Homo sapiens: one gene and its partners. The protein of the gene in region 1 purifies or fractionates together with the protein of each later gene. This does not show direct contact. Each region holds a gene or a part of one and is shown in the gene's direction. Other genes may lie near its edges.

Region 1 (8,009 bases):
TCTTTCTGTTACCTTAACTTTTGTGACAATTAATACATGAATTTTCTATTATAATAGCTGTGGAAATACAAAGAACTCTGAATCAACTTGGAACACCTCAAGATTCACCTGAATTGAGGCAACAGTTGTAAGTATCTAGTTAAATAAATAAAAGAGAAAGAAAAAACTCTATTGCTATTATTCTGTTGCTTTTACAGTATGTAGTATATTATGTTTACTGGAAGAAAAAATGGAAAAACAATGGAGTTTTTCTGCTACCTTATCCATACATTTGTACCAAGCTTTTGTGTAGATTTTTCCCTGTCTGGAGTAGGCAGGTGTTTTTATATTAAAGATCTGGAAGACTGAGGTGGGCAGATCACAAGTTCAGGAGTTCGAGACCAACCTGGCCAATATGGTGAAACCCCGTCTCTACTGAAAATAAAAAAATTAGCCAGGCGTGGTGGCGAGCTTCTGTAGTCCTAGCTACTCAGGAGCCTGAGGCAGGTGAATCTCTTGAACCCGGGTGGCGGAGGTTGCAGTGAGCCGAGATCACACCACTGCACTTCAGCCTGGGCGACTGAGCAAGACTCTGTCTTAAAAAAAAAAAAAAAATTCCTTGATAGGCTTACCCTATCAAAGCAGAATTTCTTTAGTTGCATTTCTTACAGTTTTTAGGTAGGTTGTTTTTGACAGCTGTTGAAAAATTATACTCTAGTATCTCAATTTATGTGATTTACTTTCCATAGCTAAAAATCCCCGCAGTCACCAGAGTTTTATTTGGTTTAGATCCAATACATAACCAGCTACGTGAGCTGTCTCCCCACAAGTTTATACCTACATCCTTGAATTTCAGAGAGCATTAGCTTCCGTTTAAAAAAAAGTTATAATGAATTATATAGTACATATTCCAGTAAATTAATATGCTGTTAGAAGACCAGCAGTCATAGTGATAATATTTTGTCTGTGGTATGTTGTGGATTTTACAGAGTATTTTTACATATTTTATCATTTAAACCTTACAGAATTAGAGTAAGAGAAATAGACCAAAAGAACTGTTTCCATTTTGTTCATGTCTCTTACGGGTTTAACGAGTTACCCAATGTCATTTAGAACTTAACTCTTAAATTTTATTTCAGTACTGTTACAGCTGTAAATTTCAAGTCACATATATCTAGTAAGCAATACTTCTAAACAACATTAACTATAGAGGGAAAACTGCAAAGAGGACGATATTAAAAGATAGGTAATAGGAATTCATATTTTTAGGAAGTACAATTTGAAGGACTTACAATTATCTCTAATTTATATTTTATTTTTCCACAGTGGGTAAGTGTCAGAATGGTAAAAATGCTCCAAATCTAAATAATAAACCACAATTCATTAAACTAAAGTAAAATGGAATAGAAGTACATAATTCATAAAAGTTCTAATATTTTGATAGAGTTAATAATGAAGATTCTGAATATATATCCGTAGTCACTAAGGATTTTTTTTTTTTTTTTTTTTTTTTGAGACAGGATCTCATGCTGTCACCCAGGCTGGAGTGCAGTGACATTATCACGGTTCACTGCAGCCTGGACCTCCTAGGCTCAATCGATTCTCCCACCTCAGCCTACTGTGTAGCTGGGAATACAGGCACATCCACCATGCCTGGCTAATTTTTGTATTTTTTGTAGAGATGGTGTTTTGCCATGTTGCCGGCACTGGTCTTCAATTCTGGGCTCAGACAGTCCACCCACCTCACCCTCCCAGAGTGCTGTGATTACAGGCATGAGCCACCATGTCCAGCCTAAGGTCTTCTTTTTAAAACTTTGACTATATTATGATTTCCAGAGATTTACAAAAATGCATTAAAGATAGGGTATTTGGTAAATAGAGATAGAAATAGATTTTAATTACCCTTTGTCAGTCAAATACAGATCCCTATTCTTAAGCATATTCTTATACAATATCTCATTATTTTAAAGGACCCCAAGTGTGACCAGACCATATTTAAAATGAGATGAAATATATAAGAGGTACTGATGTTGTGATTTGTAAAACATCACAATTAATATGAGCTTTTTTTTAGTGTCATGTTTTTAAGTTGGAAATCTTTTCAATTTATAAGATAGCTAGATAAAATATGGATATGTAGTCAGCACTCTGTATCCATAGATTATATATCCCCAGATTCAACCAACTGCAGGTCAAAAATATTCAAGAAAAAAAAAAAAACAACACAATAATAAAAAAAAAAACTGAACTATAAAATATAGCAACTATTTACATAGCATTTACATTATTGTATTGGGTATTATAAATAATCTAGAGATGATTTAAAGATATGGGAGGATATGCATAGGTTATATGCAAATGCTATACCTTTTTATATCAGGGACTTGAGCATCAGCGGATTTTGGTATCCACAGGGGTCCTGGAACCAATCTGCAGATACTGAGGGATGACTATAATTTACTTCTTTTATTTATTGTGTTCTTTCCCTTTACAAGGAAATGCCATTATTTTTTCCAGCGTAAACTTAAATAATAGTAAATTTGTACCAATATTGCCTCTTTCCTTTTTATTTTTATTTTTTGAGACAAGAGTTTTCCTCTGTTGCTCAGGCTGGAGTGCAGTGGTGCAATCTCAGCTCATTGCATCCTCCACCTCCCATGTTCAAGTGATTCTTCTGCCTCAGCCACCCAAGTAGCTGGGATCACAGGCATGCTCCACCACACCTACCTAATTTTTGTTATTTTTGGTAGAGATGGGGTTTCGCCATGTTGGCCAGGCACGTCTCAAATTCCTGGCCTCAAGTGATCCGCCTGCCTCGGCCTCTCAAAGTGTTGGGATGACAGGTGTGAGCCAGCATGCCTGGCCCCTCCCCCCCGCCTTTTTTTTAAGTATCTATAGCATATACATGTTCACATAGAGAAATAAGAGAGGCCAGATATAACTAGATCTGGGAACTGGGCAAAGTCTAAGGTAACAAATCTTTTCTTGCTTACCTGACCTTCCAGGTGTGAGATGCAGATAAAGGGCTTCCACATCCCCAGTATCTCAAACATAAAGGATCAGACATCTAACAGTCTCTCCTTCAGGTTCCCTCTGATTCAAGTCATCTGTGTTTCTAAATGGCCGTTGAATTGATTTCTCTAAGCTTGCCTACCCTGTGTGAGTGAAGAACCTGACATATAATATTTGCTCATTATTTATCAAAGAATAGGATATGAAATTTTTTTTGATAGAGAAAGTTGAGAGCCAGTTTATGAAAAGGCAATTTTTGTACAACTGTTTATCAGTGTTGATTCAAAAGGCAGAGTTGAAGCTTAAAGAAGTATATTAGTCCTTTGGCTGTAATGCGTGTTTTCTCACTTTAGGCAACAGAAGCAGCAGTATACTAACCAGCTTGCCAAAGAAACAGATAAGTACATTAAAGAGTTTGGATCTCTGCCCACCACCCCCAGTGAACAGGTATCAAGCTTTAAGACACATTGTTGATGTATTGAATGTGAAAAAAACCCAGTGCACTGTAGGATCTTTGAACTGTTACGCTAGAAAGGAAATTATGCTAGAAAGGAAATCAAAAATAATTCTGTTTGAGATTAGTTCACAGAACACAAAACTATATTTAATTGCTCAGGTAGTATCCTGTGGTTCAATAAAGCAAAAATTATTTCCATGCATTTGCCCTGACCCATAATTAAGTTAGTTCTCAGAAAATGCTTCCTGAGTAATTATTTCCTGGCCTTCCGGGGCTGACTGCGTGGAACATGCAGGCTCATTCAAGATGTGAGGTGTCCTGGGGGCACATATTTATTTCCCTGCTTATTTAATGGAAGTTATTACTTAGCTAAAAGTATAAGGCTTTATTTGCCTGAAAAAGAATTACTTTAAAATAGCCTCAAAATAATAAGCTAGTTTTTAGCAGCGTGAAAACCTGAGGTGAGAAATCCAGCATAATGGGTCTTTTGCCTCAAGTTAAATATGCACAGTATTTGACATACTATCAGAATGTTACTGAGAGTTAATCTGTAAGGCCCTGTAATTGGGGAGTAAGTGAAAACTTCAGGGTTAAATAAAGAGCCAACTACCGCAAATTCAGTTGAACTTCACAGCTAGATTCTAGTTGGCTTTTTCTTCTCTTTCCTCTAGCGTCAAAGGAAAATACAGAAGGATCGCTTAGTGGCAGAGTTCACAACATCACTGACAAACTTCCAGAAGGTCCAGAGGCAGGCTGCTGAGCGAGAGAAAGAGTTTGTTGCTCGAGTAAGAGCCAGTTCCAGAGTGTCTGTAAGTATTTTAAAAGACATTCTAGAAATGAACATGGTTACTTGCTAAGGGTCCCATAAAAGTCTATAGTAGCATAATTTTTTAAGTCATAAAGATCTGTGAATATCTTGGAAATCAGCTCTTGAATATTTATTTTTATGCTTTCCTGCTCCATTTTTAGAAAAGGATGATAATTTTGTATTACGGTGGTGATTTTTTGTGTCATAGTACAGAAGATTACAGAGTATATAAAAATATAGAGACATATTTTGTCAAAAAAGATTAGGGATCAAATCCTGAGTAGTATTCTCACATCGTCTTGGTACTGAGGCTTTCTGCTTGTGTACACGCTAGTGTAGAAAGCACTTTCCTCCTGGATTACACCAAGATGACGGAGATGAATGGCGCAAGTATGTTGTATCAATATTGAAAATGAACATGAGCCTGGAGAAAATAAATGAAAGGAAGCTTTACAATAGAATTTTGAATTAATCTAATTTTAAATTCCCTTAGAAACTATCATGAGTTATTTTCTTATTCATTAACATATGGATTCCAAGACTACATTAAGCTTTAACTAAATAATACTTATTTGATCCTTGAGAATATTTAGTGAATTCCTTTCTTGTCTACTTAGAATATAAAATTACTTATAATTATATTATTACTTGAAGCAGTTGACCTGAAAAATTAGAACAAGAACTTCTTTCTCTCTGTCTCTACACACACACACACATACACACAGACACGTACATAAATCAGTTTAGTTTATTATAAGGGAAAATATGAGTGTTTATTTTTTCTCATTTTTGCTTTTTTTGCCCCTTCTCATTCCATCCTGTTACTAAATTATTCAGGGCAGTTTTCCTGAGGACAGCTCAAAAGAAAGGAATCTTGTATCCTGGGAAAGGTAAGAAATACAAAACATTTTACAGATCAAAAGGTAATTTTTCAAAGTTTATACATTAAGGTCCCTGGAACAGAATTAAAGCTTTCAATATATTATATCATAAATATCCTAAGTTGTTTATATGTTGAAAACAGAGTAAATTTGAAAAAAATTTTAAGTAATTATAAAGTATTTATTACAAAATATATAAAGTTTTCCAAATAAATGTTTATGGACTTAATTATTAATATAGACATTCCCTTATATGAGGTTTAAATCAGCTGAGAAGAAATACCCAGTTGACAGATACAGCTTCCAATAATTAAGTAATAACTCTAAACTCACATTAGCTAAAATGATATAAGTGAAATGAAAAATGAATAAATTTTATTAATATATCTGTTATATTCTTAGAATTTTTTTGAGTAGTTCTGTGACTTTGGAGAATAAAATATCCTATTTAATGAATATATCTTAAATAGGAAATGAGTCCCATTGTTTTGAATACCAATCTTTGTTTTTTTCCACATTCATTTTTTTCTGTTAGCCAAACTCAACCTCAAGTGCAGGTGCAGGATGAAGAAATTACAGAGGATGACCTCCGTCTTATTCATGAGAGAGAATCTTCTATCAGGCAACTTGAAGTAAGGCTTACATTGTAGACTTGGGCTGCTGCTCTGGTCTTAGTGAGTTTGTTCTCAAGATGCTTAGGTAATGCTGGGAGAATGCATGAGACAGAAAAATTTTGTTTTCTTTTTGAGACAGTCTCCCTCTGTCACCCAGGCTGGAGTGCGGTGGTGGAATCTCGGCTCACTGCAACCTCCGCCTCCCAGCTTCAAGCGATTCTTGTGCCTCAGCTTGCTGAGTAGCTGGGATTACAGGCACGTGTCACCCCACCTGGCTAATTTTTTGTACTTTTAGCAGAGAAAGGGTTTCACCATGTTGGCCAGGCTGTTCTCAAACTCCTGGTCTCAAGTGATCTGCCTGCCTTGGCCTCCTAAAGTACTAGGATTATAGATGTGAGCCACCATGTCTGGCCCAGAGAAAGAAAATTAATGTATCAGTTTGGTAGCATTTGTAATGTATGAGTTGGAATAATTCCTTTTTTAAAAAAATAATATTGTCCTTACTGTTTGTGCTAGGACGAGGGATCATACTCCCTCCTACTGCAGCTTTTTAAAAATTATTATTGTTATATCAAGCCATCTATGGACCACCTTAGTATTGAGAAAATACCAGTGTAGAGATAAATGTCTGTCCAAGAGTCTGGATGTCTTCCCAGAGCACATGATACACATCATACCTGCATGAGTAAGACCTTTTATAAGGCCTTCAAAGAATTTTATTTCTCTTTACTATGTTTATGACATCAAAGAGATCTAAAGGATTTATTAAGTCATAGTTCTTATGGAACCTACTTAGTTCCTAGAAAGAAGGCTAATAATAGCTAACAATGGCTACAATTTATTGAAGACCTTCCATGTGCCAGGCACTTGTGGGATGAATTCTTTATGTTAATTATCTCATTTAGTCCTTATAAAAACTTTATGAAGCAGTTAATTGTGTCATTGAAGAAAAGTAAATTTATATTTAATCACCAAGTTTATAACTTCTTTATTCAGTAGTGACATTTCACTAATCCACTGCATGTTCAAATTATTAATGTGAGACTTTAAATTTACACCTAATGTTTTATTACTTTAAATTGTCAAATTGATGTGTAAATTTTACTAGAAATACATGCTAAGAATATTTTATACCCTTGTAAGTAGATACTGCTTGTGATAACAAAACTATCAGGTTGTATAAAATGAACTCAGCAATCCATGGCTCTTCTCTATTATAGATCCTTCATTTCCATTCATTTCCATCCTGCCTCGCTCACTTGGTATTTTTAATGCCACAAACTGATTTTAGAGAACTGGTGGCTATTGTTCAAATTCTTCTTAATTATTGTCAAATATTTTCCTGATATTTCCAAAGTTTATGTATTATATTTGTGTATTATAGATGCATGCTCACCCATGTGTGAGTAGTGGTTTGGGTTTTTAAAATTTTTCCTCTTTTATGGAATGGGGACTGAATTTCTGATTATAATAATATATGCGTTTTCTCTTAGGCTGATATTATGGATATTAATGAAATATTTAAAGATTTGGGAATGATGATTCATGAACAAGGAGATGTAATAGGTAAGACCTGCTGACTTAGATTTTGGAGGTGAGAGCAAGCTACATGCACTTTACCTGCTGTAACTTTCTCACAGAAGAGTAACCACTTTCTGTCCCTTTTTTGGTTTCCCTGGAACCAAAAGCATGGTCTATAAAACACAGTAAGCATCACCCTTGGCATTATCTAAAACAGATCTCATTTTTAACTCGTGCTGGTTGAAATAACCAGCTTCATTTATTTCAGAAGCCCAAATTTAATCAGGGCCTATTGCTGCCAAGACCATGGAAGGCACCATGAAACATTATTCCAGCTTATTTCCAGGGCCTCTGGTTTTAGTCTTACTCCAATTTATTTGTCATCATGCTAAGCACTTTTGGGGAAACTTGTGGTATATGTAACTGTGCATGACATCTTGTCTTTTAGGTATTAGGGAATAGGTAGACATTTGCCTAATCATTCATTTTAATAGCTTTTTGGTAGATGAATTTAGTAGTATTACATAGAAGTTAGGAATTCTTTTTAGAAGTGATTTTCTTTTCTAAAGTTGCTAAGAATCCCTTAAGTATTGAATGTAATAGCATTTCAATTAGGGTGTAGTTGTTAACATTCATCAGGATCCTGACCATCTTGAAGTCTGGAGCTATGTATTGGTATGTCTAAAGATGCTTTTAGTATATTTTCTGAATTTGGTCCAACTGAAATATTTGCACCT
Region 2 (8,305 bases), on another chromosome or scaffold:
TTCTGGGTATATATCCAAAATAATGGAAAGCAGGGTCTCAAAGAGATATTTGTACACCAGCGTTCATAGCAGCATTATTCATTATAGCCAAAAGATGAAAGAAAGCCAAGTGTCGTCCACTGATGGATGAATGGACAAGCACAATGTGGTATATATACAATGGAATATTAGGCTTACAAAGGAAGGAAATTCTGCAATATGTAGAATGAATGAATGAACCTTGAAGATATCATGCTAACTGAAAGAAGCAAATCATAAAAAGACAGATCCTGTATGATTCCACTTATGTGAGGTACCCAGAGTAGTAAAATTCATAGAGACACACAGTAGAATGGTGGTTGCCAGAGATTGTTGGGGGAGAATGGGGAGTTGTTTAATGGGTATAGAGTTTCAGTTCTGCAAGATGAAAAGAGTTCTGGACATTGGTTGCACAACAAGGCAAATATATTTAACACTACTGAATTGTACACTTAAATATGGTTAAGATGGTAAATTTTATGTTATGTGTATTTTACCACAATTAAATTTTTTTTTTTTTTTGAGATGGAGTCTCGCTCTGTCGCCAGGCTGGAGGGCAGTGGCGTGATCTTGGCTCACTGCAACCCCTGCCTCCTGGGTTCAAGTGATTCTCCTGCCTCGGCCTCCCAAGTAGCTGGGACTACAGGCACGCACCACCAAGCCCAGCTAATTTTTGTATTTTTAGTAGAGATGGGGTTTCACCATGTTGGCCAGGATGGTCTCGATCTCTTGACCTTGTGATCTGCCCGCCTTGGCCTCCCAAAGTGCTGGGATTACAGGTGTGAGCCACCATGTCCGGCCTCATAAATTTAAAAAATAAAAAATTTAAAAAATAAAAAATTATTCCCATATATGATCCAGTTGTTCCTTATAACAGGCTAGTGAAGGAGCAGGCTGAATGTCATTATTTCAGAGTAGGGGAGATCCCCTTGTAGGGGTGTCATGGCATTCCCGCAGCTTCCAGGGGCAGGGGGTGGCTACCCACTGCAATCCCTCTCAGGTCTATCCTGGCATCCCCAGTGATATGGTTGGCTCCTTTCTGATCCTCAGCTCATTTGGCTGCCTGTGCCTTATTCTCTGTGTTGCCATCTCCTTATTTCTGCAGAAGATGCATTGCAGGACCCAGTGTGCTCCCTTCCTCATTCACTCTCCTAACTTTGGAGACTCACTCAGGAACCAGAGGTTCTCCTGGCTGCCCACTCAGAACTCTACAGAAAGCTCAGAGTTGGCATGTCAACCTCCCCCAGAAAAATGAACAGAAGTTAAGTCCAATTAAGAGTTTCGGTTTGAGGAATTCTGACAAATGATACTCTCATGTAACACACACTCCGTCAAGATACAGAGCATTTCTAGTACCCAAGAAAGTTTCCCTTCCCAGTCAAACTCTGTCCCCCAAGACAACCACTGTTTTGATTTTTTATTCCCTGAGAAATTTAAATTATTCTTTTGGGTTGGGGGTGGGGTAGGGGTGGGGGTGTGGGAAGAGATGGGTTTTTGCTGAGTATTCTTCCCAACCTATTGTTTATGCCAGGACGTGGGTCCTATTAAATGAAAAAAAAAAAAAAGAAAGAAAGAAAGAACCTCCTTTGTTTCTCCTTGCATTTTAGCCATAGCTTCCCTTTCCTTGTGGGCAGTGGAGGCCAAGGTCTAGTTTGAGAGAGGGTAAAGGAGGGTGACACATTAAAGAAAGGAACACCTACACACACACACACACATACACACATTTTATATCTTGACACTCCACTATCTCCATTGTTGGTGCTTTTTCTAATCCCCTAATTATGGGAACCCAAGCCTCTGTCCTCTATCTTCTATTACTACTTATAAAACTCTGGCCTGTCATATGTGGTCCAATTAAGAAATTCATGGAACAGATAATAAGAGGCCGTGTCAGGCACTTAGGTGATAATAACATTAACATAGTATCCTGTCCCTCCAGGAGTTTACTGTTTGGTGGGGATAAATGACATGCTAACAGCTAATTTACATTCACCCTAAATCAAATCCTCCTCTTGTGTTCTCTTTCTTGATGGTTGGAACCAACACTACCCATTTACAACCCCAGAAGCCTTCCTCCCTCTTCTTTCATCAATTCCCCCATACCCTGAACCAATCAGTCACCAAGTATACTAACTTTGCCTCTAAAGTATGTCTCAAATGCATCACTCTTCTCCACCTTAGTTGTCACAAGCCCAGCTCAGGATACCCTCATCCCTCCTCTGGACCATAACCTCCTAGCCACTGAAGCATCTGTCTCAAATGCCAATCTGACCCTGTCAATTCCCTCAGTCCCCATGGGGAACTGTCCATAGGAAGCGTCCACTATTCTGAACATTACAAACAAGGGCCCTGATAATCTGACCCTGTCCACCTCCAGGCTTAGCTCCTGCTGCCCCCATCCTTTTCCTTCTACTCCAGCAACATGGCCCCCTTCTCCTGGCTGCTTCTAGTCACTGCTTAGGAACCCCCTGCCCCAGCCCCGAAAACACACAAATATACTGGTATCTTGTCGCTGTGTTTCTATGGCAACCTGTGCCCTTCTCTCACTGTGTGTCTCTCCCACCAGTCTGTCTCTCCCACCAGTCTGACAGTTCCTTGAAGGCAAGAACCAAGCCTTGTTCATGCCTGTGTCTCAGTGCTTAGCACACAGTAGGAGCACAACATGTGTCAGGCACTGTTTTAAGCACTTTTCACACATCACCTCATGACACTCTATAAGGAAGCTGTTATTACGGTGTCTATTTCACAGTTGAGGATAGTGAGAGATGAAGCGGCTTGCCTGAGATGCAACAGTCAGGAAGCAGCAGAACTCAAGCAATCAGACTCCAAGGATGGTCTTCAACACCATGCTCACCTACCCCTCAATTTACATGTGCTTGTTGAATGAATGAACGATGACACGTTTTCACCTCCCCAGCTAAGTAAATTAAACAGTTCTCTCCCAATAAACATTAGCAATCACTAGTATTGGACACTGCTTCCTTTCCCCACATCTGCCTTCCATCATTCGCTCCTCCAGGGATTTTGGCTTTCACCCCTCTCTTCTCTCCCCTCCTGAAACCCATTCAGCCCCTCATCATGTCTAGGTGTTTAGTCTTGTTTTCCTTTTGAAACATCTGTCAGATTCACTCCTTCTCTGTTCTCAATCGCTGTCATCCTGGTCTGGACCTCATCCCTTCAGGCCACATGACTTTAGCAGCGTCCTTACTGGTTTTCCTGACTTCAGTAACTTAGTCCTTTGGGATCTTGAGGTTTACACACATTTTTATTTAACCATCACAACAACCCATGAACTAGCTATTATTATTTATGTTTTATAGATGAGGAACTGAATGATAGAGCCAAGGTTTAAACGGGGTTTGTGTTGCTCCAAGGACTGTGCCAGCTCCAGACTGGTGACCTTGGGCAAGTCACTTAACCTCCGAGTCTCAGATTTCTCATTTATAAAATGGGCATGATAGCAGTAATTATCACATTGTAAGAGCAACTGAGATAACACTTAACATCCTGCCTGACACACACACACAGTAAGTGCTCAATGATTTTCAGCAATCAAAGTCCACAATCCCCATCCACAAATTTCATAGCATATCTAGCATATGAGTTGGTTAATGGTTCTGGGCAAAATGTTTTCTCGAATAGCTCTTGAACCACAGTGAGAGGAAGTTGTCATACCTGGCCCCTTCTTTATTCCTCGAAGGTGTGCTCTCCTGGGAAGCACCATATGCTGTATGAAAAATTACTTTACATGGTTATTTGCAGAATGTACAGCAACAGAAAGTACACCCCATCTGGTGGAAAGTGCACAGAATCTGCAGTTCTGCCCTGTCCAGGCTGTGTGACTACAGGAAGTCTTCAAGCCTCTCTGAACTTATTTTCTTATCTACAAAATGAGAAAAATGGATGGTGTGGTGGCTCACGCCCATAATCCCACCACTTTGGGAGGCAGAGGCAGGAGGATCATGTGAGCTCAGGTGTTCAAGGCCAGCCTAGGAAATATACTGAGAGCCCCATCTCTATAAAAAATTTAAAAATTAGCCGGGCGTGGTGGCGCTCACCTGTAGTCCCAGCTACTCGGGAGGCTGAGGCCGGAGGATCGCTTGAGCCCAGGAGGTCAAGGGTGCAGTGAGCTGTGATTGTGCCACTACACTCCAGCCAGGGTGACAGAGAGAGACCCTGCCCCCCAAAAAGGGGGAGGGGGGAATAATACTTTCCCCCAAAGGATACTGAGATGATGCATACACAACCTTTAGCACACTGTCCAACACAAAGCAAGACCTACTTAAAGGATCTGTGTAACATTATAATCAGATACTATGCTTCATTTTAAGTCGAGGACCAGATAGATTTATAAATTACATACTGTCAAAATTAAGTATTAAAAGTAGAGGAAAGGTAAGAGGATTTTGCAAATCAGGTACAACTACAGCTTATCCTGAAAAGCCGACTGCCTAGTTCTGAGGGAACAAGCCACTCCTCACCCTCAAGCTTGAGGAGAGGGCTGTAGAAGCCCGCCCACCTCCACCGCCCCGAGGGCTCCGCCTCCAGGGCCGAGGGACGCAGGCGTAAGCCCCGCCCACTGGGGGGGGGGGGAGAGAGAGAGAGAGAGAGAGAGAGAGAGAGAGAGAGAGAGGAGAGAGAGGAGAGAGAGGAGAGAGAGGAGAGAGAGGAGAGAGAGGAGAGAGAGGAGAGAGAGAGAGAGAGAGAGATATATGCCCTGGTCACGTGAGCGGGGTGCGGAAGTCGTGTTTCAGGCGGCGTTCGTGATTGGCCGCGGCCGAGGGTCCCGGGGGTGGGGTCAGGCCCTCCGACGCTTCGGGAGGAGCCGGGACTGGAGGCTGCCGAGGGGGCCGGCGCCCGAGTCCGGGATTCGGCCAGTGGTGCTGAGCGAGTGCTGGACCAGCGGCCGTCCTGTGCACCTGGCCTGTGCGCGTGCCCGCTGCTCGGCTTCACCCAGACTAAGGCGCGGGCAGCTGCGGGAACAGGCGGGGTGGGCGGAGGGAGACCGGGAGGCACGGGCGCCCTGTGCGCGGAGGAGGTGAAGGCGGCCGGGGCCGGGACGCCATGTCCATGGAGGACCCCTTCTTTGTGGTGAAAGGGTGAGTGTCGGCCGAGCGCTCCACCGGAGGAAGAGGTGGCGGTGCTGCCTGCCCGCACCTCCTAGGTCTTCTCGCAGTGGGGGGAGGGGAGGCAAGTTGGAGCTGGGGAGGGGGAACAGTGGAGACGGCTTAGTCTTGAGGGCCATGACCAAGCGTCAAGAGACGTTCCCTCCATCCCTACCTGGACCGTGAAGCCACTGTCCCCAGCCAAGCCCCTGGTGGTGGGGGGCCCTTTTTGGCCTGTGTGCTGCGGTACAATTTATTTGGGGGCCGAGGGGCTCAGCAGCTCTGCAGGTGGGGAAGGAGACACGCGGGTCCTGGCGCACACTGGCCGTCTAGTCGAGCATGGGATCTTGCTTCGAAGGAGCGAAAACAGCATCTGGGCAGGAAAAGGGAAATGGCCCTCCTGAGCTTTGTAGTTCGCGTTGACGGGGGTGAGCTCCATTGTCCATTGAGTTTGGAGCGCTTGTCCGCAGACTGGCGAGACCACAACAAGCCCAGAGGCGTCTGAGCACGTTTGCTGGGAGGGAGGCGGGGGCGGGGGCCGTTCTGGGAGGCTGGGGAGCAGGGCACCGGAAGACAATTCAATGGGGGAGTTTTTACTGAGTAATGTGAGGAGAGGAAAGCAGTCGTTCATACTCAGTGATGATTTGGAAGGAAAACAAAATGAAACAAGCCAAACCAAACTTTCCTCAGCTTTCTATTAGCAACCGGAATTTTCTCACAGTGCTAAAGGAAATGAGTGTTGCTTGTTAACTCCTTGATTTCATCCAGGTTGTTTGACAGGTTTCTCCTATTTCTTCTGCCTTTCAGAATAGAAAGGACTGCCTTCTGTTCCCTTACAAGCTATCCTAGCTCATCTTTGATTGCTCGATTGTTTCTTTGGAGATAGAGTCTTCAACTGCACTTTGTAATATCCACTTCGTAGCCATTAAACACATGCAAGAAGATCAATTCTGATGTAACTTTTAGTTTCTTATTAGAAACTTGTCAGTTTTCTGTTTTAAATGTCAAACATGAAAAATCTGAAAACTGCAAAGTTCCCAGGTCAGTACTGATCACCACAGAATGTCCCTTGCTTTTTACTAGTTGCTGCTAGCTTCCTATTTCTGTAGTGGTGCAAGCTGGCCGTTGTATAGTCAAGTGTTGTAGAAAATTTAAATGGTATTTTAGGTGAAATACTTTATCGATTATGCAGTAAAATACATTTATACTACTTCTTAATATTTCCCTGGAAAGTTTTTTTTCTTCACCTTACTCTAATTTAGATGGGAAAATGCTGAGTTGTAAATTTACTGGTAATATGTGTATCCCTACCTAGAAAATGTGATATTTATTAGAAGGATTGATTTAGGGGTTAATTTTTAAAATAGATGTTTTTTCCTTGATTGAAAGTTCTTAATGCTTAGGTTGGCAAAGGTTATCTCTGGCGGTAGAGATCAGAGATGATCAGAAATTTTTTGTTTGACTTTTTATGGAATTTGTCAAAAGCCTAAATTCTTCTGTCTTGGCATTTTTTTTTCTTGATGGTATCCTATACAGTCTACTAATGCTTGCTCACTGATTAAATATCACTACTTTATCGGAACATTGGCTTGGAGGGAGTTTTGATTGATTTTTACATCATTTTAGCTCCTATCTTTAAGGTTCTTGAAGGAAAAGAGATTCTCAGTTCCTTCTGCTGTGGAAAGGTAAAGTCACCCATGAAGGTGTATCCAGATTTTTGGGGAGTCATGTACCTGTGTTTATTAAAAGTATCAAAAATGCATTACACAGCATGCAAAAATTAAAGGTGCCTAAATTATGGCCCTTAGCCTAGGAGCTTCTGGTCTAATCTGAGAAACAAATTACCCCAAAATTAAATAGAAATGACAGGTGGCAAATGAATGAGTGTTGAAGTGAATGCTACAGATAAGTGCCTCAGGAGTTCAGAGAAAGGTAACTCCTTGGGAATTGTTAGGATTAGGAGAGCTTTTGGAGGCAGTAGTGTATCTTGAATTAGGTTTTGAAGATGGGCAGAATTTAGATAATCAGGCCTGTCTCTCTTACCTGGATGCTTATCAGAGTCTTTTTAATTGTTCTTCCTGCTTCTGGTCTCATTTCCTCTTTCAGCTGTCCTGGGATCTATTGGATCATTGCTGTCCAATAGAAGTATAATGCCAGCCATGTATGTCATTTTACATTTTCTAGTAGCCGCAGTAAAATATAAAGGAACAGGTGAAATTAATTCTAATGTAATCTCTAATACATTCAAAATATTCAACATGTGATTAAAGATTATTGATGAGATATTTTACTTTTGTACTAAGTCTTCTAAATCTGATACATATTTTACACTTACTGCACATTTAAATTTGGACATTAAATTTTCATCAGAAATAATTGATCTGTATTTAAAGTTCATTAAATACATTTTTTTTTTTTGAGACAGAGTCTTGTTCTGTTGCCCAGACTGGAGTGCAGTGGTGCAATCACGGCTCACTGCAACCTCTGCCTCCCAGGTTCAAGCGATTCTTGCACCTCAGCCTCCTGAGTAGCTGGGACTATAGGTGTGTACCACCTCACCTGGCTAATTTTTGTATTTTTAGGACTATGGGCAGGGCACCCGCCACCACGCCCGGCTAATTTTTTGTATTTTTTAGTAGAGACGGGGTTTCACCATGTTAGCCAGGATGGTCTCGATCTCCTGACCTTGTGATCCACCTGTCTCGGCCTCCCAAAGTGCTGTGATTACAGGCGTGAGCCACCGCGCCCGGCCTACATACTCTTTAATTGTTCCAAACATACATAAAAGGTTTTTGATAACTGAATTGCTATCAGTTACCAAGTTTACATTAATTAAAATTTAATTTCTGTCACACTAGCCACATTTCCAGTCAGTAGTTGTATGTGGCTTCCGTGTTGGACAGCACAGTGTAAGCTTTTCTAGAGTCCTAGACAGGTGTACCCTACTTAATATTATTCAGTGGCTGCTGCTGGCCTGCAGAATAAAGTGCCAACACTTCCTGACCTCACTGATCTAGCCTCTGCTCTCCCTTAGCCTTAGTACTCCAGCAGTGCCAGACTCAATACAGTGACTGTGATTGCTGTACTGGATGCTCTTACTCTACATGCACCCACACTGCCTGATTCACCCACGCAGCTTTCTGGAGTCAGTGTAAGCATCTCCCTTGCCTCCAGGAAGTGCT
Region 3 (8,009 bases), on another chromosome or scaffold:
ACTTTCGTTCATTGCTTCAGGAAGAATTTCTTTTTCTGTTTTAGTTCTAATGTAAGAGATTGTTAACAGTGAGAGTCCCGGAGTAACATCTTTATACTTAAGAAAATGTATTTGGAATCGTAATGTACTCATGCTCATGCCTTTACATGTTCCAGGTCTACAGGTCCAACTGCTGCCACTGGCAGTAATCGAAGACTTCAGCAGACACAAAATCAAGTAGATGAGGTATTGCTCTGAAATGTTGGAAATATGAATTTTAAACAAATATGAGTACTCTGGAAATCTGTTTAGAAAAAGTATCATCAAAGTGTGAATGTAAAGCAAATTCTGACTGTATCATAATTGTAACGAAACTTTGCTCCCTGCTGTGCTGGAAGATCTAATCTAAGCAAAAGTCAGACTTTCTAGGTTTCACGCTTGTTTTCCTGTGATAGAAACCTGCTCATAACATTTAGCTCAGGAGAAATAAAAAATCATATGCCTAAAACATGAACATCACTCCCTGAGTGCATTCCCCAAGAAGCACTTTATAAAATCGGATAATACAATGTTAAGGATTAGGTCTTTAGATTGCTCAAGCCAAGACCAGTTCTTCTGATCAGATTTTTTTATCAAAATGCTTTGTCTTCTTACTAATTGTCCAGCCTGAGCAAGCCTCTCTGTAGAATTCATCTCTAATGGTTGTCCATTGACACACACAAAGTAGATACTGTCAAACTCCATTAGCTCAGCAAATCTCTGTTTGTAGAATTCTTGAGCTAGAGGACCTCCATCTTTTGTTCTGCGCCGTATGTGGAGAACCACAGCAGAAGATTGAGAAATTCAGACTAGTGTTTCCACATTCCTAAAAGCCGTCACTGTCCGACAAATATATTTCGGTCTTTCTGCATTTAGCTGCCCTGAAAAAACAGTTAAAGTTATGTCAGATACTGTTGTTAAATAATATAGTAATGTTTTGATCTGATGGTTTTGTTCATGAACTTATACAATTTTAGATTTTCACAGTAAGAAACCCATTGTAATTCTGTCCTGCCTGGAAATTCTGTTTACTTACAAAATCAAATTGGATTTTTTTTTTTAGCCAAAGGAATTTTAAGGAGAGTTGTTTTTTTATTGAGGCAAAATTACCATAACATACAACTAAACATTTTAAACTGTATATAATTGAGTGTTATTTAGTATATTGATAATATTTTGCAACCATTACCTCTTTCCATTTTCAGAACTTTTTCATCACCCCAGAACACCTCATGCCCATTTAGTAATCATTCACTATTTCCCCTTCCTCCCATTCTCTGGTTACCTCTAATCAGCTCTCTCTTTCTGTGGATTTGCCTGTTCTGGGTATGTCATATAAAAGGAATCATACAATGTGTGGCCTTTTGCATCTGCCTTCTTTCACTTAGCACAAAGTTTTTTGCATTCATTCAAGTTGTAACGTGTTGTACCGTGTTCCTTTTTACGGTTGAGTAATATTCCATTGTATGTGTATACACAATTTGTTGAGCCATCCATTTGTTAATGAGTCTTCGAGTTGTTTCCACCTTTCAGCAATTATGAATAATGCTGTTATAAATATTCACAGGAAAGATTTTGTTTAGACATAGGCTTTCATTTCTCTTGAATGTATACCTAGGAGTAGCATTGCTAGGTCATAGTAGCTGTATGTTTAATTTTACGAGGAACTGCCAAATTGTTTTCCACAATAGCTGCACCATTTTATTTTCCCACCAGCAATGTCCAAGAGTTCCTGTTTCTCCACATCCTTGCCAACACTTGTTTTCCATTTTGATTATAACCATCCTACTGAGCTCTTTGGGTTTTCATTTGCGTTTCTCTAATGATTAGTGATGTTAAGCATCTTTTCATGTGCTTATTGGCCATTTGTATGTCTTTGAAGAAATGTCTGTTCAGGCTTTGCCCATTTTTTAATTGGGTTGTTTGAGTTGTGAGAGTTTTTTATGTATTCTGGATATTAAATCTTTCTTTATCAGACATGTGATTTGCAAATACTTTCTCCCATTCTGTGGCTTGTCTTTTACATTTTTTTTATTTTTTTTATTTTTATTTATTTTTTTTGAGACGGAGTTTTGCTCTGTTGCCGAGGCTGGAGTGCAGTGGTGCAATCTCAGCTCACTGCAGCCTCCAAGCCCCAGGTTCAAGTGATTCTCCTGCCTCAGCCCCCAGAGTAGCTGGGATTACAGGCGCCCGCCACCTTGCCCGGCTAATTTTTTGTATTTTTAGTAGAGACAGTGGTTCACCATTTTGGTCAGGCTGGTCTCAAACTCCTGATCTCAGGTGATCCACCTGCCTGGGCCTCCCAAAGTGCTGGGAATATAGGCATGAGCCACCGCACCTGGCCTGATAATGTTCTTTGATGCACAAAAGTTTTTAATTTTTATGAAGTCCAATGTATCTGTTTTTCCTTTTGTTGTTCTTGATTTTGGTATATAAGAATCCACAGTCAAATCCAAAGTAATGAAGATTTACCCTTATGTTTTCTTCTAAGAGTTTTATGGCTTTAGCTCTTACACTTAGATTATTGATCCATTTTGAGTTACTTTTTGTATATAGGGTGAGGTGGGGATTCAACTTCATTCTTTTGCATGTTGGCTCTTCAATTGGCCCAGCACTGTTTATTGAAAAGACTGTTGGATGGCCTTCGCACTCTTGTCAAAAATCAATTGGCCATAGATGCTTAGGTTGACTTCTAGACTCTCAGTTCTATTCCATCAGTCTATATGTTTGTCCTTATGCCAGTATCACACTGTTTTGATTACTGTAGCTTTGTAGTAAGTTTTGAAATTGGGAAGTGACTTTGGGGAGTACTGCCCTCTTAGCAATATTAAGTCTTCCAGTGTGTGAACATAGGATGTTTTCCCATTTAATGATGTCTCTTAACAATTTCTCTTAGCAATGTTTTCTAGTTTCATTGTCCAAGTCGTTCACCTTTTGGTTAAATTTATTCCTAGGTATTTTATTCTGTTAGATGCTATTGTAAACACAATTGTTTCCTTAATTTCCTTTTCAGATTATTTGTTGCTGGTGTATAGAAACACAACTGATTTCTATGTGTTGTTGTTGTACCCTGCAACTTTGCTGAATTTGTTAGCTCTAGCAGTTTGTTGTGGATTCTTTGGTATTTTTTATATAGAGAGAATCATCTGCAAATACAGATAGGTTTATTCTTCTTTTCCAATTTGGATGCCTTTTCTTTCTCTTGACTAATTGCTCTGTTCAGAACTTCCAGTACAGTATTGAGTGGCAGTGTGAAAGTGAGCATCCTTGCCTCGTTCCTGATCTTAGGGGGGAAGTCTTTCACCATGGAGCATGATATTAGTTGTGGATTTTCCCATAAATGCCCTTTATCATATTAAGGAAATTCCCTTCTATCCTTAATATGCTGATTGTTTTGATCATGAAAGAGTGAGCCCATTTTTTCTAAAGTGAAAGTTTGGCTCAAAGTAATAAAGTGCTGACCTGAAAGAACAATGTGCCTGTAGATTGTCTTTGAAGTCTCTGTGCCTCCATTTTTTTTGAGACGGAGTCTCACTCTGTCACCCAGGTTGAAGTGCAATGACGCAGTCTCACCTCATTGCAACCTCCTCCTCCTGGGTTCAAGCGAGTCTCCTGCCTCAGCCTCCTGAGTAGTTGGGATTACAAGCGCCCAGCACCCCTCCCGGCTGATTTTCTTATGTTTTTAGTACTGAGACAGGGTTTCCCCATGTTGGCCAGGTTGGTCTCGAACTCCTGACCACAGGTGATCCACCCACCTCGGCCTCCCAAAGTGCTAGGATTACAGGCGTGAGCCACCGCACCTGGCCCTGTTCCTCCATTCTTTGTGCATTACTTGCTGTGATCACACTCATCTAGGTGGTGGACATAATGCGAGTTAACGTGGACAAGGTTCTGGAAAGAGACCAGAAGCTCTCTGAGTTAGACGACCGTGCAGACGCACTGCAGGCAGGCGCTTCTCAATTTGAAACGAGCGCAGCCAAGTTGAAGAGGAAATATTGGTGGAAGAATTGCAAGGTAATTATCTTTTAACTGACCTTTACATTTAACCCCCCTTCTCCATTCTCAGAGAATTAACAGGCTACAGATAATGGACTTTCACGACTCTGGGAGGTGGGTTTGACTTCCTCCACATGGAAATGTGGGTCCACTGTGAATCCGAAACACTGACTGCATACCCTTTCCTAGCCCCACACTAGGAATCCTCTATGTGCTGTGGCTGATCTTCAGAAGATGCAGGTAGAACAGGAATATCCAAAATCACTCACAGTCATCAGCCCCTCCCAACCCTCTACCCCAGCAGGGCCCCAAACAGATAGGAGAGGGCTGGAATTGGTCAGTTTTCTCGTAGTTCTGTGAATGGTTCCAAGGTCAAGGGAAAGAAATGCTAGAAAGCCACAGTGTGCCCAACAGAAGAGTAGAAAGCAGCTCTCCCAGGAGCACGAGCCAAAGCAGATTTTATACAGTTAGCGTGCTGCAATCAGATCCAGATGTATCCTGTCCTCTGCCTTGTTTACAAGTGACACTTTGAGACACAGGGCAAGCTGAGCAGCCTTTCCATATGTGGAAAACTTGTATACACAAACAAATGCCTAGCTAGAGGCCACACATCATTTGAACATCTTTTAAAAGCAGATAAGTTACCTTCAGGCCCTAATTGAGAACATTTAATTTAGGCTTTAGAAATTATTAATTACTCCAGACTGTATGCACCTGAATTTCCCTTTCAGTGACTAGATGAATATTATATAATACTCTTCAACAAGCACATTATGTCTGCATTTGAAATGTGATATGGACATATGTTTTGTTACAGATGTGGGCAATCGGGATTACTGTTCTGGTTATCTTCATCATCATCATCATCGGTGAGTTACCCTTTTCTAAACTGATTGGAAAAGTCTTCTCCATGTGTTCACAGACCATTGATTTTGTGTACAAGAACTCAGATTAAAATTTCCCTCCGAAATGTTAGTTTTGGCTAGGTGCGGTGACTCATGCCTGTAATCCCAAAGCTTTGGGAGGCCAGGAGTTTGAGACCAGCCTGGGCAACATAGCGTCTCTACAAACAATTGTTAATAATTAACCAGGCATGGTAGTGCACACCTGTAAGTCCCAGCTACTCAGGAGGCTGAGACAGGAGGATTGCTTGAGCCCAGGAATTCAAGGCTGCAGTGAGCCATGATCATGCCACTGCCCTCTAGTCTGGGTGACAGAGTGAGACCTTTTCTCAAAAAAAAAAAAGAAAGGTTCATTTATTCCAAGGTTTTCAGTTTTCTTTAATAAATGTTTTAAGTACTTGAGTTTTGTATAAGTCTGAGATTTGATACAAACATTAATCCTTTGAAGTTAGAGAAAATCTATTCATTTCCACTTCTTTTCTCTGAATATATTTTTTTCACATATTTCCTTTTATGTAATGTAGTGGTTAAAAGCATGGAGTGCCTGTGATCCATCCTGGCTCCACCACCATCCAGCTGTATGGCCGTGGACAAGCAATTTAATATCTCTGGGTTTCTGTTTCCTCATTTGTAAAATGGGGATAATAATAGTCCCTGTCTTGTTTGTTTGTTTGTTTGTTAAAGGACAGATCTGGTAAATATATAAAAATTGGCCGGGCTTGGTGGCGCACGCCTGTAATCCCAGCACTTTGGGAGGCTGAGGCGGGCAGATCACGAGGTCAGGAGATCAAGACCATCCTGGCTAACACGGTGAAACCCCGTCTCTACTAAAAATACAAAAAATTAGCCGGGTGTGGTCGCGGGCGCCTGTAGTCCCAGCTACTGGGGAGGCTGAGGCAGGAGAATGGCATGAACCCGGGAGGCGGAGCTTGCAGTGAGCCAAGATCATGCCACTGCACTCCAGCCTAGGTGACAGAGCAAGTCTCCGTCTCAAAAAAATAAATAAATAAAATAAATAAAAATTGCTTAGGTTGGTGCCTGGCATATAATAATAAAAATAATAGCTATATAAATAATATATATGTATACACAAACACACACACAACTATTATTATATAATATTCAAACAACTCACTGCCATCGGTAGCCCAGTATATGAGAACCGAAACATGACTTCTTTCATTGATAGATGGATGTTAGTGGATGTTTCCTTTTAGCAGGAAGGTACAGTTACTTGGATCCTTTTGACTCTAGTCTCCTTCCTCTAGCCCTCTATAGAATGGAGAGAAGCCAGTAGTAGGAAATCAGCCCAGTCTAATTTCTGATCACATTTAGACTGCAGCATTGGATGTTGGCTTGGGATTCACACTGAGAGACTAACCTGCTGTTTCCCCTGCCTTTTTGCATCTCTCCTCCTTCTTAGTGTGGGTTGTCTCTTCATGAAGAACCAGCGGAACTCAAAACTGCTGTTCAAGAAACCTCTTCAAGACTTTTGACTTAGAACCTGCTATATTATCAAGCTTACCTACTGTTATCTCTAAAATTTTTTTTGTGTTAATGTAAAGTTGAATTTCTAGGAAACGTGCCTTTGTTTTTTAATATGCACTCCAAATTAGAAGGCCGGCCCCGTCCACATTTTGCACAGTGCCTTTACAGATTTACGTATGGGCTGATGAAGAGGCCTTCTTAAGTTCCAGAGTGCTATAATCTAGATGTAATGTTGTCACTAATTAATTGCCATTACTCCCAGTTAGTTACCCTTGTCATTTGGCATTATTTTCAGAACCACATTTTAAACCTTTGGGTAATCAGATTTCCAACTTATGCCTTCCAGAAAAAAACACTACTGCCTAACACAAATCTGTGATAACAACAGGCTGTGCCTTATTTTGATAATTTTCTGATTCCCTAGAAGAGAACCCTCTACTTTTTGTAAGCACTACTGACTCTCGCTGTATTTAAGATGCTGGTGAAGAGCTTTTGCTCTTGCATTAGATTTGAAGATGTTTACATTGTTGTTATTGTTATGTATCACTTGCTAAAAATATTGTTTTAATCAGAGATAACCTCTTTAAAAAAATTTTTAAAGAACTATGGCTATGACCAAAGCTTCTATTTTGCCAAAAAGTTAAATACCGATAAAATGGCCTTAAGTGTATTCCTGACAGTTAAATTCAGAAACGTGCCAAATGGAACTCAAGGTGCCCCTTCAGAATTAAAATCATTACCTTGTGTGTGAACCTTCTACATCTTCATAGGCCTTTCTTCCTTTTGAAAGGCTGTAGACAGTGTGGCTCCCCTTCTGATTCAGTATTTTGCATGGGGGTTAGAGAAGGTTTGAGGTAGACTCTGACCGTCTCATAAAAGAGTTCTACCCAGCAGTTGGCAGATTATCAGCTGTGGACTCCAGCATGTTTCTGATAATTATGCAAGCAACAATTCTGTAGCCTCAAGTAAGACCACCTGTGAACTTGATCATTATCTGGCCCAAATATGAAGATAAACTATAACTTTGGAGTTTGTTTCCTATTTGTATTCACATTCTGCTTCCTAAATCAGTTTTCTAAATTATGCCTGCAATTAGGCATTGGTCAGGGGTGAATGGCTCTTTTCACAGAGAGTAGCCAACCAGAGACCTTTGCTTTGATATCATCAACTGCAGAGAATGCTGTTGATGGGAATGCTGGAAGCAGAAACTTTGTCATCGGAAAAACTTTTCTTGTATGCATGAGACTCAACATCAGGATCCACAGCTTAAAGATGGGAATTCAGGTATGAAAGAAAACAGGCAAGGAGGCACTGAGGGAGAAAGACACAGACTTTATCGCTCTGTGGCTCATTGTTACTGGAATATTCTAAAACTCTTGTTCACATGCTATTATGACTTATAAAGCAGCAACAGCTGAGGCGCACCAGGACACAGCTTCCATTTCTTTAACGTCTGTTCCCTTAACATCGCTGAAATGATTTACTGTTGAAGAGATGCCTTGCGGTGTGGCCAGCTGTGAGGAGAAAGCAGCTGGCAGTGTTAGGACATTAGTCCACCTTCAGCGCAGGGTCTCTGGCCGGGTCTGACTCAGAAACCTTGGTACT
Region 4 (8,009 bases), on another chromosome or scaffold:
AGGCATTGGTAAATGCTCCCATTCCAAATGGGAGAAATTGGCCAAAACAAAGGGGCTACCGGCCCTATGCAAGTCCAAAATCCAGTGGGACAGCCATTACGTCTTAAAACTTATTTTAATCTCCTTAGACTCCATGTCTCACATCTAGGGCACGCTGATGCCAAGGGTGGGCTCCCAAGGCCTTGAGCAGTTCTGACCCTGTGGCTTTGCAGGGTTCAGGCCCAGAGGCTGCTCTGCTGGGCTGGCATTGAGTGCCTGAGGCTTTTCCAGGTTCATAGTGCAAGCTGTTTGTAGACCTGCCATTCTGGAGTCTGGAGAATGGTGGCCCTCTTCTCACAGCTCCACTAGGCAGTGCCCCAGTGGGGATTCTGGGGGGTGGGCGGTGTCCAATCCCACGTTTCCTTTCTGCAGTGCCCTAGCAGAGGTTCTCCATGAGGTCTCTTCCACTGCAGCAGACTTTGGCCTGGACATCCAGGCATTTCCGTACATCCTCTGAAATCTAGACAGAGGTTCCCAAACCTCAATTCTTGACTTCTGTGCACCTGCAGGCCCAGCTACCACGTGGAAGCTACCAAGGTTTGGGGCTTGCACCCTCTGAAGCAACAGCCCAAGCTGTACCTTGACCCCTTTTAGCCAGGAGCTGGAGCAGCTGGGACTCAGGGCCCCAAGTTCTGAGGCTGCCCACGAAACCATTTTTTCTTCCTAGGCCTCAGGTCTTGTGATGGGAGGGGCTGCCATGAAGATCTCTGATATGCCCTGGAGACATTTTTCCCATTGTTTTGGTGATTAACATTCAGCTCCTTGTTACTTAACGCAAATTTCTACAGCTGGCTTAAATTTCTTCTCTTTGCTTTATAAATTACTTGGTGGTCTCAGCTCAGTGATCCAGTGATCTGAGTGATCTCAGGAAAAGAAAGAAATATTAGCAAATAAGAGAAACACCTTACATTGCCATACTCCTTTGACAGGTCATGTGAAAGTAATTTAAGTGATCATATCACTTAGCCTGCAGCTTGAATATTTGTCTCAGGCTAGGTTTTACTTTAGGTGCTTGTAGTATGTGTTTATGCACTAGAAAGTTAGTGTTATCATAGTTCCAGCATAAGGATGTCTTACTGTGCCAAATAAACAGTGGAATTCCTATATGTATCTTGATATTTGTTTCTTGTACACTGAATGAACTTAGGTACAATACACACAAGCCCACTTAACTAAAGGTCACATCTTTTTTTTTTTTTTTGACAGAGTTTCACTCTTGTTGCCCAGGCTGGAGTACAATATCTTGATCTAGGGTCACCTCAATCTCCACCTCCCGGGTTCAAGCGATTCTCCTGCCTCAGCCTCCCGAGTAGCTGGGATTACAGGCAGGCGCCACCATACCTGGCTAATTTTATATTTTTAGTAGAGACGGACGGGGTTTCTCCATGTTAGTGAGGCTGGTCTCGAGCTCCCGACCTCAGGTGATCCGCTCGCCTCAGCCTCCCAAAGTGTTGGGATTACAGGCGTGAGCCACCGCGCCCGGTCTAAGGTCACATCTTTTCTAATCATTTAGAACACAACCTAGAACCAGAAAGAAAGTAAACAAAAACAGGCCTGTACTCATGGGACAGCTGTGGAGTCTTCACCTATGAGTCATACCACCATCATAATTTTTGCCATTTAGAGTACTGTTGTTATTTTACTTCATGTTTAATGGGTTTTTTAAAAAAACATTGCCCACTTCCAAAGTGATAATCTGTGAAATCATGGTTTTTATGTATTTTATAGCTTTTTTAGCATCCATTATAATAAATACATAACTATTAAATATATAACTCTTTCATATGTAACAGTTAAAATCATATTCTTGCTCAGCACTTTGGAAGATACTGCTTTGGGCCTAATCAGCTCATTTTTAAAATGAAGATTGAACTAAAGCTTATGGGCTTGAAAATTCTGTGATCTCTATGATGATGTTCATTATCATAACACAATTCTAGCAAAGTTTACTGGTTCCACCAGATGAAAGTAGATTAGGGCCGGGCGGTGGTTCATGCCTGTAATTCCAGCACTTTGAGAGTCTGAGGCAGGAGGATCGCTTGAGCCCAGGAGTTTGAGACCAGCCTGGGCAACATGCCAAGACTGTCTCTACAAAAATTTTTTAAAAAACTAGCTGGACCTGGTGCCCAGTGCCTGTGGTCCCAGCTACTCAGAAGGCTGAGGTGGAGGATCGCTTGAGCCTGGGAGGTCAAGGCTCCTGTAGATTAAAATAACAAAAAGGAAAAAGAGGATGTTTGCTCTTTGATATCAGCTGCCTTTTTTTTTCCCTGAATTCAGGCTTTCCCCCGCCCCCGCCCCAATTTGGTTCCTTTATCTGCAACACTCTGGACATCTGTTTTTGAGCTATGTTTGTACTCCACATTGTGTATATATTAGCATGTATAATATTATAATGTTGCTTATCTCCAAGAGTGCTGAACTTTTTATTCCATTACTATATTTTGTTTCCAGATCTGTAGGTTGACAGACGGGCAGATGACAAGGACTGCTCTTTTCTTTTCCCTTTTTTTTTTTTTTTTGAGACAGAGTATTACTCTTGTTGCCCAAGCTGGAGTGCAATGGTGTGATCTCGGCTCACCGCAACCTCTGCCTCCTGGGTTCAAGTGATTCTCCTGCCTCAGCCTCCTGAGTAGCTGGGATTACAGGCATGCGCCACCACGCCTGGCTAATTTTTTGTGTTTTTAGGAGAAACGAGGTTTCACCATGTTAGCCAGGCTGGTCTCAAACTCCTGACCTCAGATGATCTGCCTGCGTTGACCTCCCAAAGTGCTGGGATTACAGGCATGAGCCACCTCACCCGGCCAGGACTGCTCTTTTTCTTTGCTGTGATAGGTAGAAACTTGAAACAGAAGGATCCAGTGCCTCTAACAATTAGAGGAAGTGGATTATGGAGCCAGGAAACAAAATGTACTGTGTTTTTTTAAATAGTAAGAGTAGAAGAAGCCCATTTGTATTCATTTAGATTCACTGACATTTTGGTTTGGGTTTCAATTTAGGTTGTATTGCTACTAAAGTATTTAAATCACTGATTCCTATGTTTTTCCAGAATTCTCTCTTCTTGTTGCTTTCTGTAAGTTCTGTAACTTAGATGTAAAGTTTGTTTAAATTTATTTTGACAGTGTTTTGGAAATTGAAATTACTTTCGATGGCCTTTCAATACTTATAAAACTCAAGCCAGGTGTGGTGGTGTGTCTGTAGTCCCAGCTACCTGGGAGGCTGAAGTAGGAGCATCAGTTGAGGTCAGGAGTTCAAGACCAACCTAGGCAGCATAGCAAAATAAATTTCAAACTTCTTGGTATAGTATACAAAGCTCTTCACAATATGTGTTCTGTCTTGAAAGCCATCCCCTGCCCTCCATACATACACACACACATTATATTCCTGCCTCACCACTGAAGCCTTACATTGTGGCTTTTTCTTCCTTTTTGATAATTTAATTTAAAATCATAATTTTTTGGACTTGATCATACTTGGATTTTGACCCACACAAATGAGAATCAGGGTGTTTGTGTTTTTTTGTTTGTTTGTTTTTTAAGACAGTCTTGCTGTGTCACCAAGGCTGGGGTGCAATGGCATGATCATAGCTCGCTGCAGCCTCAAACTGCTGAGCTCAAGTGATCCCCCTGCTTCAGCCTCCTGAGTAGCTGGGACTACAGGTGCACGCCACCAGGCCTGGCTGATTTTTTTTTTGTTGTTTAATTTTGTGTAGAGATGGGGGACTTGCTTTACTACCCAGGCTGGTCTCAAACTCCTGGCTTTAAGCAATCCTTTTGCTTTGGCCTCCTAATGTGCTGAGATTGTAAGCATGAGCCATCATGCCTGGCCAAAATCACGAGAGATATTTCATAATTATTATGAAAAGTTATAATAGTTTTATTGAGCACTGTGTGCCAGGCACTGCTCTAAATACTGTGCTTGAATTAGCTCAATCCATGTAACAACACTTAAAGTAAGCATTATTCTCATTTAATGAGGAAACTGAAGCACAGAAAAGTTAACAGTAATCAGGATTTGAAACCATTATGCCTTCAGATATTGGGCACATAACTACTATACTATGTTGTCTTTTGTATAAGCAAGAATGCCACTCTTTTCTGTTGGGGGTATCCTTTCCAGGGACGTGAGTGCTTATATTCTCTCTTTTTTTTTTTTTTTTTTTGAGACGGAGTCTCGCTCTGTCGCCTAGGCTGGAGTGCAGTGGCGCGATCTTGGCTGACTGCAAGCTCTGCCTCCCAGGTTCACGCCATTCTCCTGCCTCAGCCTCCTGAGTAGCTGGGACTACAGGCGCCCACTACCACGCCCGGCTAATTTTCTGTTTTTTAGTAGAGACGGTTTCACCTTGTTAGCCAGGATGGTCTCGATCTCCTGACCTCGTGATCCGCCTGCCTCAGCCTCCCAAAGTGCTGGGATTACAGGCATGAGCCACTGCGCCCGGCAGAGTGCTTATATTCGCTGTCTGTAGCTTCTGACTCTTAATATCGGAATATTTGAAAAACTAACCAGAAAGCATCAAAGTGGCTGGGTGTGGTGTCTCACGCCTTCTGGCATTTTGGGAGTCCAAGACAGAAGGATTGCTTGAGGCCAGGAGTTCAAGACCAGCCTGGGCAACATAGTGAGCCACCCTATATCTACCTAAATAAATAAATAAATAAATAAAGCATCTAAGTGAACTTAATCAGAGCTAAACTATGTGGATGGTTTCGGTGAATATTTCATTCAGGCAGGGTGAATCCTTGCCAATTAATCTCACCCCGTACTTGGTATCTCCCTGGCAGATACCACACTTATGCCTGCCACATTGTCTCTTCCTGGGTAGATTGCCAGCTTCTGGCTCTTGAGCCCCGTTCTTATCTTTCACATAGAACGTCCCCTTTCTGTTCACATAACCATTCTCATTGATAGGGTTAATAAAATTGATTACAATCAAACCTACATCTACCTCCCCAGTATTACTCCTGGGTCACTTAGAGTAGAATTGTGGAAGTTCCTAATTTGACAGGGACTTGAAGACCAGGCGTTGGACATCAAGCAATTAAGTTACCATAGGTGCTTCTGTAAAACTGAAGTTTAATTTTTTTTGTAATTAGAGTCAGGGTCTTGCTATGTTGCCCAGGTTACATTTAAACTCCTGGGCTCAGGTGATCCTCCTGCCTCAGCTTCCTGAGTAGCTGGGACTATAGGCCTGAAAATGTAATTTTGGTTTTCTTTTTGGTTCCTGATTTTTAGTGGGACTTTCCCATTTGTTAATATGATTTCTGTCTTGAATCTTGTGCTTCAGTGTACTTTGAAACCAAGCTGATTTTTGTTTGTTTTGTTTTTTCGTGTTGTTTTTTAAGATGGAGTCTCGCTCTGTCGCTGAGGCTGGAGTGCAGCGGTGCGATCTCGGCTAACTGCAACCTCCGCCTCCCGGGTTCAAGTGATTCTCCTGCCTTAGCCTCCTGAGTAGCTGGGATTACAGGTGCCCGCCACCACGCCTGGCTAATTTTTTTTTTTTTTTTTTTGAGATGGTGTCTCACTCCGTTGCCCAGGCTGGAGTACAGTGGCACAATCTCGACTCACTGCAACCTCTGCCTCCTGGGTTCAAGTGATTTTCCTGCCTCAGCCTCCCAAGTAGCTAGGATTACAGGCACATGCCACCACGCCCAGCTAATTTTTGTATTTTTAGTAGAGACGGGGTTTTGCCGTGTTGGCCAGGCTGGTCTCGAACCCATGACCTCAAGTGATCTGCCCTCCTCAGCCTCCCAAAGTGCTAGGATTACAGGCGTGAGCCACCATACCCGGCCTTTGGTATTTTTTAGTAGAGACGGGGTTTTTCCATGTTGGCCAGTCTGGTCTCAAACTCCTGACCTCAGGTGATCCACCCACCTTGGCCTCCCAAAGTGCTGGGATTACAAATGTGAGCCACTGCGCCTGGCCTGAAACCAAGCTGTTTAGTAGATACGATTCTGTGATGTACTTAGTATATTTGCATTTGAGTTATAGACTTTGTATGGTAAAAAGAAAAGAGTTTTTAAAAAGAGAAAAAAATATGTATGTATATTTGCATAGTTTTGGGGCCTATATATAAAAATGGTTAAAGTTGTTTGTGTAGAAGGAGATAGAAAGGAAAGCCCAGAGAGGAAGTAAAAGGAGGAAGCCATCCTTAACATAAAGGAGACCCTTGCCAGGCAAAGTGGCTCATACATGTAATCCCAGCACTTTGGGAGGCTGAGCCAGGAGCATCACTTGAGGCCAGGAGTTTGAGACCAGCCTGGGCAACATAGTGAGACCCTGCCTCTACAAAAAAAAAAATAATAATATAATAAAAGGGCCAGGTGTAGTGGTGGGCACCTGTAATCCCAGCTACTCGGGAGACTGGGGAAGGAGAATCACTTGAACCCTGGGGCAGAGGTTGCAGTGACCTAAGATTGCACCACTGCACTCCAGCCTGGGCAACAGAGCGAGACTCCGTCTCAAATAAAATAAAGTAAAATAAAATAAAATAAAAAGTGAGACTCTGTCTCAAAAAAAAAGTTGTATATAGCCTATACTTTATATCATCAACTTTAATATTCAAATTTAGCCTTGCAGATGGAACTATTAATATTTAGTAGCTATTACTTTCAGCTACATTTACATAAATGTGACTCATATTCAACATTGTTACTTTCCTTTTGTTTTGCCTACTATTTATTTCCACTTCAGTAAAAATATTAATATAATGGCTAACATTGAACACCGGCCATGTGCAAGGCATTGTACTAAGTACTTTGTGTAGATCATCTCTTTTTAATCTTCACAAAAAAAACAAAACTATAAAATAGAATGTTATCCTTGTTTTACAAATACAGAAACCGAGTTTTAGTGGTGTTAGGTAATTAACTTGGGGTCACACAACAAATACATTGTGAGGCTGGAATTTATATGCTGGAATTCCCACTCACCCACTATGCTATCCTGCTATAAACAGAAGTTTCCTCTTGCTGCGGATGCATTGGTTACCATGGACGTAGACTTCTATCAAGCCAAAGAGAATGCTGAACTTAAAAGTACAGTAATAAACCCTTTGAGTGTAACTCATTGAGGAGCTTTATTGTGATTAATTTTCAGAGAAGGAATAAGGCAGGAAACTAATTTGGTAGAATATTTTAGCTGCAAAATCCTTGTTTACCAGTATAAAAAGAATTATCTTATAAAATCATTCTTTGCAAGACCCTGTGAAATTGATGGTGATTTTTTTTTTCTTTTTTTTTCAGACAGTCTTGCTCTGTTGCCCAGGCTGGAGTGCAGTGAGTCTTGGCTCACTGCAGCCTCTGCCTCCCAGGCTCAAGCCACAGACGTGCACTACTGCACTCGGCTAATTTTTGTGTTTTCTTTTTAGTAGAGCTGGGGTTTCACCGTATTGGGCAGTCTGGTCTTGAACTACTGGCCTCAAGTGATCCGCCCACCTCTGCCTCCCACAGTGCTGGGATTACAGGCATGAGCCACCACGCCTGGCCTGATGGTGATTTAAAGTGCTCTTTCTTCATTACTTCTTGAGTAGCTCACCAGTTTTACAAATGAAGCCACATGGATCTTCCAAGGCCTTATTTAAATTCCAGGGCCTTTTTTCTGTGTATTTCTTTCCAAGAAGCTCATTTACTTTTCCTTTCTTCTTTTCTTCTCTTTTCTTTTACTTCCTTTCTGCTTGCATTTTTTTTTTTTTTTTTTGAGACGGAGTCTTGCTGTTGCCCAGGCTGAAGTACAGTGGCATGATCTCGGCTCACTGCGACCTTTGCCTCTCGGGTTCAATCAACTCTCCTGTCTCAGCCTCCTGAGTAGCTGGGATTATAGGTGTGCATCACCACGCCTGGCTAATTTTTGTATTTTTAGTAGAGACGGGGTTTCACCATGTTGGCCAGGCTGGTCTTGAACTCCTGACCTTAGGTGATCTGCCCACCTTGGCCTTCCAGAGTGCTGGGATTACAGGCGTGAGCCACCGCACCTGGCCT

The links.
Region 2: the proteins of STX7 (region 1) and STX6 purify together in Homo sapiens (affinity purification with mass spectrometry; 5 studies listed by BioGRID and IntAct, with this or other methods). This does not show direct contact.
Region 3: the proteins of STX7 (region 1) and VAMP3 purify together in Homo sapiens (affinity purification with mass spectrometry; 5 studies listed by BioGRID and IntAct, with this or other methods). This does not show direct contact.
Region 4: the proteins of STX7 (region 1) and SNAP23 purify together in Homo sapiens (affinity purification with mass spectrometry; 5 studies listed by BioGRID and IntAct, with this or other methods). This does not show direct contact.

What each region holds. Positions count from the first base shown.
Region 1 is NC_000006.12:132,467,711-132,475,719, reverse strand, and holds part of STX7 (syntaxin-7), read left to right. Parts: intron 1-57; coding exon 58-127; intron 128-3,344; coding exon 3,345-3,438; intron 3,439-4,119; coding exon 4,120-4,257; intron 4,258-5,093; coding exon 5,094-5,146; intron 5,147-5,672; coding exon 5,673-5,769; intron 5,770-7,244; coding exon 7,245-7,317; intron 7,318-8,009. UniProt on the Homo sapiens protein: May be involved in protein trafficking from the plasma membrane to the early endosome (EE) as well as in homotypic fusion of endocytic organelles. Mediates the endocytic trafficking from early endosomes to late endosomes and lysosomes.
Region 2 is NC_000001.11:181,019,451-181,027,755, reverse strand, and holds the start of STX6 (syntaxin-6), read left to right. Parts: upstream 1-4,885; 5' UTR 4,886-5,082; coding exon 5,083-5,117; intron 5,118-8,305. UniProt on the Homo sapiens protein: SNARE promoting movement of transport vesicles to target membranes. Targets endosomes to the trans-Golgi network, and may therefore function in retrograde trafficking.
Region 3 is NC_000001.11:7,773,287-7,781,295, forward strand, and holds part of VAMP3 (vesicle-associated membrane protein 3), read left to right. Parts: intron 1-155; coding exon 156-225; intron 226-3,873; coding exon 3,874-4,032; intron 4,033-4,831; coding exon 4,832-4,883; intron 4,884-6,339; coding exon 6,340-6,359; 3' UTR 6,360-8,009. UniProt on the Homo sapiens protein: SNARE involved in vesicular transport from the late endosomes to the trans-Golgi network.
Region 4 is NC_000015.10:42,497,848-42,505,856, forward strand, and holds part of SNAP23 (synaptosomal-associated protein 23), read left to right. Parts: intron 1-8,009. UniProt on the Homo sapiens protein: Essential component of the high affinity receptor for the general membrane fusion machinery and an important regulator of transport vesicle docking and fusion.